Linked DNA regions of Homo sapiens. The protein of the gene in region 2 purifies or fractionates together with the protein of the main gene of each other region. This does not show direct contact. Each region holds a gene or a part of one and is shown on either strand. Other genes may lie near its edges.

Region 1 (3,500 bases), on a different chromosome or scaffold from region 2:
TATGATAAACTAGCAGCTGGAAAGCCTCAGAGAGGTAATGTTTATGGTAACCTTGAGATGTCACATAAGTTTCATTTGCAAGAAAGAAAAGGGCGCTAGAGCAGAGGGAACAGCATCAGCAAAGGCAGACAAGTATTAAAGTGCACTGAGTGTTCTGGGAATGACAAATGGTTTGCTGTGGCTGGAAAACAAGGTGTACTTTGGGAAGTCTTTCATAGATACTCCAAATAAATCACTTTAAGTATTTAATGAACCATCTTCATCCTTACTGAGGGACCTCAAAGTAAGTAAGAAACTTAAAATTCAGGGCCCATGTTACTCTACCATGATGAAAACTTGGTCTCAGACAACAGTGGGAACCCTCTGCTCTGAATGACTGGGGTTCACGTGGCATGATCACATCTGAGCTCTATGAGGCAGCTCAGCAGTACGGAAGATGGACAGAGGGACGCAGAACCTGGAAGAGAGGACCGGTCATGACAGCAACAACCAAAGCAAGAGACAATGACAGCTTGATCAAAGCAGAGGGAATGGAGGGAAAGGTCAGGGTCAGGACACAGATACGTTAGCAGCAGCATCAACAGGTCTGGAAGCAGGGGGGCGCTATAGAAGAGGAAGTTAAAGATGACTCAGGTTCATCATTTGACTAGCTAGAAAATGAGGTCATTAACAGAACCAGGGCAAGACAGAGGAGGCACTAACCTGAGAGGAAGATGATGGATTTGGTTTAACACACATTTAATTTGATGTTGTCAGAACACTGGATATCTACAGCTGGTGAGGGTTTAGTTTTCATTGGTACACGGGTCATAGCTGAAGCCATGGGAGGCTAAACCAAGAGACTAATACCATGGATGCCACGGGAGCCAAGAAGAAAAGTGTTTCAAGAAAAGAAAAGGAGATCAGTGGCTGCCAAAGGCCACACTGAGAGGTCAAATGACCTAAGGATTGAAAATACGCATTAAACTGAACTCAGCACACAGATGTTACACATAATCTTGAAAAGTGGTAAAGACAAAAAGTCTGCTGGCTGGGCGTGGTGGCTTACGCCTGTAATCCTAGCACTTTGGGAGGCTGAGGCCGGAGGATCACTTGAGCCCAGCAGCTCAAGGCCAGCAGGGGCAACATGGTGAAACCTCGTATCTACAAAGAATACAAAATTACCCAGGCATGGTGATGCATACGTATAGTTCCAGCTACTCAGGAGGCTGAGGTGGGAGGATCGCGTGAGCCCCAGGAGATAGAGGCTGCAGTAAGACATGATTGCTCCACTGCACACCAGCCTGGGCGACGGAGTAAGACCCCATCTCAAAAAAAAAAAAAAAAAGTCAGTCAGCAATGGGTTGTAGAATGAATGACAGGGGGAAAGGAGAGGTGGGAGGTTGAAAAAGTAGAGGTAGAGTGGCAACCACACTTTCAGGAATTCCTACCCTTTCAACACAGCCTGTGCTATCACATCTTCCTTGGCTTAGACAGATACATTTGACAATGCAACTACTTAAGATCTTCAACATCCTTCTCGTGCCCAGGGCCAACTACCTTCATGTCAACAGCGCCACAACTGCTCACCTACCTACAGAGATAGCCACATCCCATATTTCATCAGCACATGGCCCATCTCCTGTCATCTCTTCCTATCAGTTTACATGTTATCGCTTCCATTCCTACCAAATCCAAATCACCAACTGATTAAAACTTTCTACTACTCTCAATCGCCAGGTTACAGGCTTCCAAAATCAGCTTGTGCTTTTCCTTCTTCCTCATCTCTTAACTCTGGAATCAGTTTTAAGTGACAACTCCCTTACCAGGTCTTCCTCTCAACCACTAATTACACATGCAAGAACAGGCAGGCCCTTGTCACATCCACACAGGCATGGTGTAACATCTGGTTTCCCACATCTAACCTATACACAGCAGATTAAGTTTCCTTTAAGGAAAAACCATCCAACAAGAGAAAGCCAAACTCCCTAGGGTAGTACTGGAGACCCTCCATCATCTAGCCACAAACTACCTTGATAGCCTTCTCTCCAACTACTTCTTCACATCCTTCTCTTCTGAAACTTCCAAACTTCTGAAACTGCTAGGGAGCCTAGTTTACTCCTTCCCTAAAGCTCCCTTTGAACACCCAAGACCTCAACAACATCCCTACCACAATTTAATTGCCCACTATGCCAAGAATTGCTCTAGACTCTTGGGATACATGAACAAAAGAGAGATTCCCTAGCTTTATGGAGCTAACATTTTAGCAGGAGACAACAAAAGACCAACCTCATTAATAATATTGAGTATATAAAATGTTAAAAAATTGTACAAAAAGAGAAGTAAAGCAGGATGTCAGGGACTGGAAGTGCTGAAGTGGCATTACCATTTTAAACAGGGTGGTGAGGGAAGGCCCCACTGGAAAAGTGACTCGAGGCTTAAAGGTTTAGTCAAGCAGATTCTCAGGGAGAGCACGGTCCAAGCAGAGGCAGGGAGCCAGGCCAAAGGCCTGGAGCAGGAACATGCCCAGAAGGTCTGAAGAGCAGTAAGAAGACCGAGGGAGCTGCAGCACAGCCAGTGAGAGCTAAAGGAGGTGAGCTAGAGGGGAGATGTGACCCGTCTCACAAACCAGCTTGGATGTCAAGCAGACAGCTGGAGACTCGAGAACTGGAGCTGAGGAGAGAGATGTTGGGTTATAGGTGTCCTGGATGAAGGCACTAAGTTCGAGGCCTAGAGTGTTCCGGCTATGAGATGAGGAAGAAACAACCTGTGCGACAGGAGGAAAACCAAGAACACACCTTAGTGTCCCAGCGGCCAAGTGACGAAAGGCTGAACTGCAGAAGGGGTACTCCACTTGTCTGACACTACTGACAGATCCAGTAAGATAGGGACTGAGAGCTAACCACTGGATTTAGCAACACTGGATAAGCAACACTTATCACCTTGATAAGTGAGATTAAGAGAGAATAATGCCAGGCGTGGGGACTCACATCTATAATCCCAGCATTTTGGGAGGCCTAGGCAGGGGGATCCCTTGAGCCCAGGAGTTCAAGGCTGCTGTGAACTATGGTCACTCCACTGCACTCCAGCCTGGGCGACAGAGCGAGATCCTATGTCTAAAATTAATGAGCAAAGGGAAAGTGAGGAATTAGAGACCAAGTACAGGCCACTCCTTCCTGGGGTTTTGTTGCAAAGGGGAAAAAAGAAATAGGGCAATAACTGGCCAGGAAAGTAGGAGTAAAGGTTTCAGATAAAAAAAATACCATGTTTGTGTACTACATGTATATGTGTACATAGGTATGCATATAAAGCCCTAGAAAGTCCTACGCACCCAACAAATGTTTATTTCCTTCACTCTCACTTCACACCTATCATTTTCTATTATCTTTGTTGCTATATATGTGACCTTTGTAACTGTCTGCAAGAAACTTTCACTTGGAAGGCCCTTTCTTTGTCCCAGTGTCAAACTCTTCCTCATCCTTCAAGACTCAAATATACCTTCCTGGGAAGCCTTCCCTGAC
Region 2 (3,500 bases):
CCGCCTGCCTTGGCCTCCCAAAGTGCTGGGATTACAGGTGTGAGCCATCGCGCATGGCACAATTTTTTTTTTTTTTTGACACGCTCCAAGAGCCCTTCCAGCTCTGTGTTTCTAGGATATTGGAGGTTGTCTGAGGCCTCCTGATACCCTGTCTGCCATTTTAAGCCCTCAAGGCATTTTTTTTTTTTTTTTTTTTGAGATGGAGTTTCCTTCTGTCGCCCAGGCTGGAGTGCAGTGGTATGATCTTGGCTCACTGCAACCCCTGCCTCCTCGGTTCAAGTGATTCTCCTGCCTCAGCCTCCTGAGTAGCTGGGATTACAGGTGCCTACTACCATGCCCAGCTAATTTTTGTATTTTTTTGGTAGAGACGGGGTTTCACCCTGTTGGCCAGGCTGGTCTTGAACTCCTCACCTCAAGTGATCTGCCCGTGTCAGCCTCCCAAAGTACTGGGATTACAGGTGTGAGCCACTGTGCCTGGCCTTTTATTTGTTTTGTTCTTTTTTTTTTTTTTTTTCCTTTTTGAGATGGAGTCTCGCTCTGTTGCCCAAGCTAGAGTGCAGTGGTGTGATCTCGGCTCACTGCAACCTCTGCCTCCCAGGCTCAAGCGATCCTCCCACCTCAGCCTCCCAGAGTGCTGGGACTGGAGGTTGTCCCCATTGCATACTCCCTGTGTGGGGAGTTCCTGTCTCTGGGCGCTAGGGTGCCGTGCCACCTTACCTGGTACAGGCCCCTACCTAACTGTTGTTCCCCACAGTGAGATATTTGTTATTGACCACGCCATTTCCCAGAAGCCAAGGCTTGGAAATAGTCACTTTCCCGAGGTCACACAGGCCTGAGATTCAGCACCAGGACTCAAAGCCCATCTGCCCAACTTCAGAGGCTGTCAGTGGAAGTCATGCCTTGATCCCAGCACTGCACGGATAGCCACTGAGTGACGTCTTCCACTAGAATAAGGACACATGAGAACCCTCAACTGGATGTTGGGGTGCAAGATTTAAGAAGCAACGAGGTCCTAGTTGTCCTGGAGTTTACGTTCTGGTGGAGGCATCAGGCAAGAAAAAGTAACCCACATCTCTGACGTGAGATGTCAGCCTATGAAGTTGAGTACCCAGGCCTCTCAGATCTTAACATGCATATGATCCCCTTGGGGAACTTGTTAAAGTGCAGATTCTGTGTTTTTGGTTGTTTTTGTTTTTGTTTCTGTTTAGATGGAGTTTCGATCTTGTTGCCCAGGCTGGAGTGCAATGGTACAACCTCGGCTCACTGCAACCTCTGCCTCCCGGGTTCAAGCGATTCTCCTGCCCCAGCCTCCCAAGTAGCTGGGATTACAGACACCTGCCACCATGCCCGGCTAATTTTTGTATTTTTAGTGGAGACGGGATTTCACTGTGTTGGCCAGCCTGGTCTCAAACTCCTGACCTCAAGTGATCTGCCTGCCTCCACCTCCCAAAATGCTGGGATTACAGGCGTGAGCCACAGCGCCCGGCTAAAGTGCACATTCTGATTAGCAGGTTTGGGGCAGAGACTAAGACTGTGTTTCTAACCAGTTTCCAGGGGCCTCTGATGGTGTTTGTCTAAAGACCACATTTGGAATAGTGAGGGTCTGGATCAGAAATTGGCAGATTACCACTCATAGGCCACATCCGGCCCGCTACCTGTATTTGTAAATAAAGTTTTATCGGAACACAGCTATGCTTATTTATTGACATTTTGTCTGTGGCTGCTGTTGTGTAACAAAAGCAGAGTGGAGTAGTTGTGATAGAGACCAGAGAGCCCACATTGCTGGCCTTTGAAGAGAAAGTCTGCCAGTTGCTTTTCTAATCATCTTTTGAGTCCCTACAAGTTATAAAACTTTGATTTGGTGAGTGTTAGATGCTGATAAAAATAGTAATGATTGCAGTTAAGACTTGGGTGCTTTCTGGGTACTTAGCTCTTTACGTTTATTTTTCTTAGCTCAATTCTATCATAGGCAATACTACTGTCTCCACTTTACAGGCGAGAAAACTGAATAGAGGCTGGGCCATTGGCCCAGAGTTTGTGGACCAATGAGTAGGTGAGGCCAATTTGAGTCAAGTTGACTGATTCTTATTGGACAGGAGCTTCTGCCTAGAACTTTTTCCCAGAGCACAGAGAGGGTTTAGTTTAGATTTCCTTCTGTCCCAGAGTGTTCTGGTGCCTTCATTTCTTTCTCAATCCATCCTTCTGTTTACTCAACAAATACCTGTGCACCCTGTGCTGGAAGTTTGGGGACCATGCTGGGTTCTGAGAGGATGTGGGGACTAGGATGGGGTCCCAGCCCTGCACATTCCATGGGGTTGGCAGGGAAGCAACACCAGAAGCCACACAGGATGCTAAGCACCTTGGGGGATACTGGTACAGGGACAGGAGGCAGTCAGGGAAGACTTCCTGGAGGAAGGGGTGCAAATGATGCCAGTAGGAGTTAGCTTTGTAGAGGAGGTCAGGAAAGGTTTTCCAAGGAGAGAGAATCACAAGTGCAAAAGTTTGGAGGTGTGAGACTCTGTGGCCTGGTATGTTTGGTAGAGTTCAGGGCACAAAGACTATAGTGTGTGTGTGTGTGCGTGTGTGTGTGTGTGTGTGTGTGTGTGTGTGTGTATGTATGTTGAGGGTTGGGGGAATCGGTGGTGTTATAATAAAATTGGAGGTCAGCAGGAGTTAAGTCACAACAGAGCCTCAGTGCGATGCCAAAGGACTTGAATTTTGCCCTGGAGGCTGCTGTTGCCTAGTATGAAGTGCTAAATCACAGAGCGAAAGTCTTCCTCCCCACCCTCTGATGACTTTCCGGAGAAAGCCTCCATTAGGTGCTAACGCGTCTTTAGTGCTTCTCCCCAGACTCCTCTTGTTTAACAAAGATCGGACACAACCGGCTCCTTTGGGGATCCTTCCTTAGGCTGGCGGCCGTCTCTAGCCAGAAGGCATAAAAAAACATTGCTTCCTTCGATTTTATTTTTGCATTAATTTTTTAATTAGGGCATGTTTTAAATTTAATCCAGTGGATTATAGTTTCCCTTGAAAATATGTTTTAAAAATATTGGATCCATTGAACAAAAATGAATACGATTAAAGGGGGTTCTGGATGTAATTAACATTGGGAAGGTAGTGTTCAGAAGCTTGGAATTTGGAGAGCCCCACAACAGGTGAGAGGGCTGGAGGGGGCTGGGCCAGTAGTCACCTCTCTCTCAACATTCCCCTTCTTCCCTGGATACCCAGGGGCCTTGACTGAAGGGCGGGATGGCTGTGTAGCTAAGATGTGGGTGCAGGGATGTAGGTGCCCGTTGATGGTGTAGGAGCTGAGGTTCCTGTTCCAGGCTGCTGCTAGTGCTCATCTCTCTCCTTCTCTGTCTGGTGATTTTCTTATTCTTCTTTTCTTTCTTTCTTTTTTTGAGATGGTCTTGCTCTGTTGCCCAAGCTGGAGTGCAGGGGCAGCATTGCAGCCTTGAACTCCTGGGCTCAAGCAATTCTCCTGCCTCAGCCTCTCGAGT
Region 3 (3,500 bases), on a different chromosome or scaffold from region 2:
CAGTGAGGAGCAGGATACTTACAGTCTCAAAATCTCTCCCTGGAAATTGATTATTCATTACAAAGGGAGAAAGAATAGTTTTACAGATACCTCCACCCCTTCTTGGAGGGCACTGACAGAGTCACTCGGCAGCCCCAGCCCTCCTGGGACCCACTCCATCGTGACCACATCTCTCTCTGGCTAGTCCTCTTCCTCTCGCCTGAGATAGCACCGTCTTTGAGCCTAGATTCTCTGGCTTGGTTTCTGCTCCTGTACAAACCTCCAGTCTCTGCTGGAGACCTGACAGTATATCAGATCTTGCCAAGCTTCCCTGAGGGGCTGCACCTGTCATGGTCGTGCCACTCCCTCCTGAGTGACCACCCGAACCATGATGCTCTCAGCTTCAAGTACCTCCCTGCATAGCCTTTGTCTAGACCAAGTTCCTGGGAGGAAACAGGTCTGAATCCAGTTCCATCTGGAACGCCAGGCACTGCTGGATGGGTTCTCATGCTCTGCACCCCAGGGCTAAATGAAGCCATATATGACTCCTTAGCCAAGACCTCTCTGCCTTTTAAGGATTTTTAATTTTAGTGAAAATGGTTTTTAGATGACTAAAGCTTTAATCCCATTACAGTAACTCCTAATTTCAAAGTCTTCCAAATTCTCCAAAACAAAATTAACTTTCATTTTAAATATTAAAGTATCTTATTCCTTTAGAAAAAAAGATTAGAAATTAAGGGAAGATGCCTCAAATCACAGATAATGTACGGAATTCTAGTAAAATCTCTGCTAGAAGGAAGGCTGTGCCTTGTTCAGAAGATAAAGCTCGGTCATACTGACACCATGAACCAGGAATTGGGGGAAGGCAGGCATCCCCACCATGACTCACTACCTTTATAAAGTGGTGATCTGCACGTGGGATGGTTGAATCTCTGGGCTTGGTCAAAATATACTGGTTGTTCTGGGAGTCAATCAGCATGCTAAGACCCAAGTCATCCTCCACTTCTCGTTTTGTTATATTTTGCTTAGAATTGGCCTCTTCTTCCTCCACCCTCAGAACTGCCTCAAAATTGACCCCCTTGACCTGCAAGAATAATAATATTATGCAATTAAAATCCATTAAATGCTTTCAATTTTTGGAGAATGAACGCTAAACAGAAGAATGTTAAAAATACATCAATCAGTGTTCATTAGCAGTGAATTAGGACTTCTTTTTCAATTAAAGAAGTAATTTAAGAATGGATAGGTTTAGGATTTCTGCTACTTTCCAAGATCTACTTCACCATTCTTTCAAGAAATTCATAGCCCTTAAAATACGAGTTCTCCTCTAATTCCATAACTAGTAGATTTTAAAACAACTTGTTTCTTCTGCTCTATTTTTATTCTCTCTGCTTTCTTTTCTAATCTTATTCTGATTTGTTTTTATTACCCAACCTTTTTGTGAGTCCTCAAGACCCACAGTCAATTTTCGTCATCAGTCCCACTTTTTTTCTTAGAATCTTAAACACACTACAACAAATGAGCAGCCTGAATTCCTGCTTCAGAGATGAAGATCATTTTCTATAAGAAGTTCAATGTTCCCCTGTTACAGGTGTTCAAACCAGAGCGACTCCATCTTGAATATGAGCAGGGTAAAATGAGGATGAAACCTACTGGGCTGCATGTCCGGGACAGGCATTCTTAGTCACAGGGTGAGACAGGAGGTCGCCAAGACTGATATCACAAGATACAGGCCACAAAGACCCCGCTGACAAAACAAGATGCAGTAGAGAAGCCAGCCAAAACCCACCAAAACCAAGATGGCAATGAGAGTGACCTCTGCTCGTCCTCACTGCTCACTATATACTAATTATAATCCATTAGCATGTGGAATGACACTCCCACCCGCGCCATGACAACTTACAAATGCCATGGCAACATCTGGAAGTTACCCTATGTGGTCTAAAATGGGAGGAACCCTCTGTTCTAGTAAACCGCCACCCCTTTCCCAGAAAATTCATGAATAACCTACCCCTTGCTTAGCATGTAATCAAGAAATAATCATAAAAATAACCCACAGGGCTGCTCGCCTATGGAGTTGCCATTGTTTTGTTTCTTTACTTTCTTAATAAACTTGCTTTCACTTTACTCTATGGACTACCCCTGATCCAAGAACTCTCTCTTGGGGTCTGGATTAGGACCTGTTTCTGGTAACACCCCAGTAGATCAGCATTAAACCCAACTGTCCAGGCTGTCCTGAGACTAGAGTCCCAGTGTCCCAATCCATCTGGCCTCTGGAAAATGCAGACAAGCTGCTGAGGAGGGGAACTGACTGTCGGTGTTAAAAATATAAAAGGAAAATAAAAGATAATTAGCTTACTTCTACAAGACCAAATTATTTTCTCTACGACAGAGAAGCATTTTAGTTTGTCTTCATTTTCAATCTACATTAAAAACATACACGTGAACAATTTCAACAACATGTCTTCTGATTAGTGAGTGGCTCAGGAGGTGAAGAAGCAGCTGTTCTGGAACGCTTACTGATTTATTGTCGTCAAAAGCATGTTCCTCTATCTCTTCCTCCAGACGATCCGCTGCCTTTCTTACATCTTCAAGAATCTCGTCAAGCATGGATAAACTTTGGTTTTGATGTTGCATATTTTTAAGGGCTTCAACTTGATGTTTTTCTGCTGCCAGAAGTTCCATATATTCTGTTTCTTCCTATTCATTTGTAAGAAAAGAAGAGTGAGATATATTAAGAAATAAGCTAGGACATGACTTTCTTAATCAATCCTCCTGCTTTGTCAAATGTCCCTGTTCATATGTCAATAACTTAATTCTGGTCAGCTAGGGAAGTCACGTGTCCTAGTTATTCAAACATAACTGAGCTTAGCCAAATGTTTAGGGAAAGGTTTTTGTGTACGTACATCAACACACGTAAGAAACATTTGTTACACAAAAGTAAATGTAATATCTGTAGGTCATCCATTCACACAAAACTCATTTACTCAACAGTGACTGTGCTCCAGGTCTATCATGTGTGTGAGTGCAGCGGTACTTTAAAACCAGATGTGAGACCTGAATGTGGAGCTACTATCTAAATGCAATGCACAGTCAAATTCAAGTTACAAGGGAAAGCTGTTCCAAAACACATGTAGAAACCAACAGCATTAATCATTTGAAGAACTGATGGATGATGCTGGCAATATAATTTAGTAATGTATTTTACACAATTATATTTAATCAATAATCTTACTTTTAAACATTTATTCTTAGCTAAAGGGGTGGGACAAGGCCAGAGCAGAGAGGACCAGAGCCTAGAAGAACATCATCGCCTCAATTACTAAGTAGTCATGAGACATCATCTGATGCCACTGACAAAGAGCTGCAGGTCTCACACAGCTGCAGGTCTCTCACACAGCTGCAAGACTCACACAGCTGCAGGTCTCACACAGCTGTAGGTCTCACACAGCTGCAGGTCTCACACAGCTGCAGGTCTCACACAGCTACAAGTCTCGCACAGCTGCAGGTCTCACACACAG
Region 4 (3,500 bases), on a different chromosome or scaffold from region 2:
AATAAAAATTGCTATTTTTAAAAGTCAAGACAGCTATAACGATTTTCTTCCATTTATACAAAGCAAAATAATGGAAGACACATAGATTAGCTTATTTCAGGCTTTATATGAAAACAGTGACAGAATTGTCTAAAGAAAACAAAAACCAAAACTCCTGTCATAATTGATTAGTCTGTAACATTCACATAATCATCATGACCTTTTAAAAAACAGGAAAAAATCACTCAGCTCTACATAATTGGTAAATTCAGAGAAAACTAAATATTGGGGTTTGTGATAACTCATTACTACAAATTTTAAAATTCAAATTCCATTTTTCTACAGTTTTTTCATAATACAGTGTTATAAAAGAGTAAACCTTATGTATTTAAGTGATCTTGCTTTCATTAACATTGTATTTTTCCTAATATTGAGAGGATTGGTCTTTAAGCAAAAATTACATAGTTTACCTAACTAATAAAACAAAAAGGTCAGGTTCAGTGACTCACAACTGCGATCCCAACTACTCGGGAGGCTGAGGTGAGAGGATCACATAAAGCCAGGAGTTTAAGACTGGCCTGGACAACATAGCAAGAACCTGTCTATCAAAGTAGGTAGATAGGTAGAGAGAGAGGGAGGATAGATAGAGAGAGAGAGATTAGATAAATAAATGATAGATATAGACCTGTAATCCCTGCACTTTGGGAGTTTGAGCCCAGGAGTTCAAGACCAGACTGGGCAACTTGGCAAGACCCCATCTCTACAAAAAATACAAAAATTAGCGGAGCATGGTGGCACGTACCTGCTACTTGGAGGCTGAGGTGGGAGGATTGCTTGAGCCCAGGAGGTTGAGGCTGCAGCGAGTCATGATTGTGCCACTGCACTCCAGCCTGGGTGACAGAGCAAGACCTTGTCCTCAATAAATAAATAAGAAAACAAGGATTAAAAGATGGAAACTTTCTAATACTGGGGTTCCTTATCCAGGGCTAATTTATCCTTTAGGCATAGTAAACGTGTGCCTTGGACCAAGATACATATAGGGGTCCACAGAAATATTTTCATTTTTATTTCTTTTAAATCAGAAGTAGTAATGTATATACATGTATGTAATAGCAAACCTATACAGTATTTTATTCGTGTTTATACAGATGTACAGAAAATATAGTCATAAATGTATAGAAAATATAATATTTAATAGTTTTTGTGGAGTAAGTGCCTTACAAAGGCAAAAGGGCCTAGGGCCTTGGGAAGTATGATGCAGCCCTGCTTTTCCTTCTTAAAGGCTTCCTTCCTAAACACCTTTCATCTCTTTATTTTATTCTTTTCCTACACCATGATCTTATGAATACTTAAATTCCCAACTGATTGCTATGTGTATTGAAGCATAATATCACAAAGTACATAAATCAGAAGTGTATATCCATGTAAGTGTACACCCAGATGGAAAAAAGAAGTAATTTTTTTCAGTGACATTATTGCATTGTGACCTCAAGTTCAGAGCAACATTCTGTGCCCCTAGAATACCGTGATAGCTGCTAAACTAGTCAGGAATTTTTTGTTTTCAGGCATGCAGTGGTGTAATTATAGCTCACTGCAGCCTCGAGCTCCTGGGCTCAAGTGATCCTCCCAAGTAGCTTGGATTAGAGGTTTAGCCACCACGCCCAGCACTAATCAGGATTTAAATATTAATATTTAAGGTGTATGAAATGTGCAGATAATAAAACTGTTTTCCCAGCTTTTTATTAACAAATACTCCCTTCTGAGGCAGTGTTTGAATTACTCAATTAGAGAAATTTTTCTCCCCACAGCTCGATGCATTCTATTTCTCATCATTTGGCTCATAACTGGAGGAAGGCACCACTTTTGGTTCTTGCCAAATCTGACTGCTGATGTGGGCTTCATTGACTCCTTCAGGCCTCTGTACACACATGAATACAAAGGACCAAAAGCAGACTTAAAGAAAGATGAGAAGTCTGAAACCAAAAAGCAACAGAAGTCCGACAGTGAGGAAAAGTCAGACAGTGAGAAAAAGGAAGATGAGGAGGGGAAAGTAGGACCAGGAAATCATGGAACAGAAGGCTCGGGGGGAGAACGGCATTCAGACACGGACAGTGACAGGAGGGAAGATGATCGATCCCAGCACAGTAGTGGAAATGGAAATGATTTTGAAATGATAACAAAAGAGGAACTGGAACAGCAAACAGATGGGGATTGTGAAGAGGATGAGGAAGAGGAAAATGATGGAGAAACACCTAAATCTTCACATGAAAAATCATAATCTGACTAATTTTGGGACTGAATGAATAAGTACAAGAGGTTGGATTTTCTATGTTGGCTGATTACCATATTGAACACATGGCATTTGTAGCATTCTTTAAATCTATCTACTGAAATGTATTTGACATTCAAGCAGTTATATTCGGTCCTTCATTTTATAGAATATTGGCACTATTATTGGTACAGTTTAAAGCCATTAATATGTTTTATCCATTTGATAATTTTACAGTAAGTAGGTCTCATTCATTTTGACAGTTATCAAAGATGTACTTTCCACAGTTAAATTTACATTAATGGCAATTTTTGATAGTTTTATGGCTTTTTACTGTTAGACTAATCAAAAATAACTTTAAAAGGAACAAAGAAACTCCAACATTTCACATTATGCATAGTTATGTAGCCATTTCACAGTTTCTTTAAGATGTGTAAACTCATTGTCCTTGATAGTTTTTATTTTTCATTATAAAATTATACCAGGAGATTTCTTTTAAGATTCTGAGTTAGCAGAGTTCAAAACTATTTTGTGGAAACAAGCCAACTAGTAACAATGCAGCAACACTTCTGGTTTAGCTAAATTATTTTTCCAATGTAGGAAATCCACACTGATTTGTACGTCTGACTGAGAGAAAGATGGTCGTCTCCAGCAGAGAAAGTGAACAGCATTTGTTGGAAGGTGATGGCTCTCCCTCCTCCCTCCCCATTTCATTGGCGTAACGTAAAGTGTATTCTGTACATAATTTACAAATAAAACATTTTATTTTAATTGTTACTTATTATTTAGATATTTCTCAACACTTAAATTCATAAAATTAAGACCATGTAAGGGTATGTTTTTAGAGAAATGGAAGTTTGAGTAACCCACAGAACATCTGTGATCTTTCTACAGCAGCTTCAGTTTTGTGCCAACATTCCATGTATTTTGAATATGAGCAAAAACTGATCTTAAGAGCAGACTTAAAGTAGCTTTGTACGCCTTAATGTTCATTTTGATTTATTTTAAATCTTTACATTCAGAAATGAGATACTGTATTATCAGACCAGGAGGCATTGCTGTGAAAGATAATTTCCTATTCTAAAATATCAAATTTAAAATAAAGATAATGAAAGAAAACATAAGAGAACTATTGGACTCTAATTGCTTTGAACTAGTTTTGCAGTTTGACTTTACGTCTTATACATCTTAGTTACAAGTCTTTGGAAACTCTTGTTTACTTATGAGCATAATCATTCCTTGGAGTTATACT

Evidence for each region. The genes of interacting proteins can lie anywhere in the genome.
Region 1: the proteins of TPST2 (region 2) and XPO6 purify together in Homo sapiens (affinity purification with mass spectrometry; one large-scale study listed by BioGRID and IntAct). This does not show direct contact.
Region 3: the proteins of TPST2 (region 2) and SLC9D1 purify together in Homo sapiens (affinity purification with mass spectrometry; one large-scale study listed by BioGRID and IntAct). This does not show direct contact.
Region 4: the proteins of TPST2 (region 2) and SEC62 purify together in Homo sapiens (co-immunoprecipitation; 2 studies listed by BioGRID and IntAct, with this or other methods). This does not show direct contact.

The regions. Positions count from the first base shown.
Region 1 is NC_000016.10:28,201,966-28,205,465, forward strand, and holds part of XPO6 (exportin-6), read right to left. Parts: intron 1-3,500. UniProt on the Homo sapiens protein: Mediates the nuclear export of actin and profilin-actin complexes in somatic cells.
Region 2 is NC_000022.11:26,580,133-26,583,632, reverse strand, and holds part of TPST2 (protein-tyrosine sulfotransferase 2), read left to right. Parts: intron 1-3,500. UniProt on the Homo sapiens protein: Catalyzes the O-sulfation of tyrosine residues within acidic motifs of polypeptides, using 3'-phosphoadenylyl sulfate (PAPS) as cosubstrate.
Region 3 is NC_000013.11:113,497,521-113,501,020, reverse strand, and holds part of SLC9D1 (transmembrane and coiled-coil domain-containing protein 3 isoform 1 precursor), read right to left. Parts: intron 2,680-3,500; coding exon 2,500-2,679; intron 1,064-2,499; coding exon 872-1,063; intron 1-871. UniProt on the Homo sapiens protein: Probable Na(+)/H(+) antiporter.
Region 4 is NC_000003.12:169,990,807-169,994,306, forward strand, and holds part of SEC62 (translocation protein SEC62), read left to right. Parts: intron 1-1,787; coding exon 1,788-2,257; 3' UTR 2,258-3,500. UniProt on the Homo sapiens protein: Mediates post-translational transport of precursor polypeptides across endoplasmic reticulum (ER). Proposed to act as a targeting receptor for small presecretory proteins containing short and apolar signal peptides.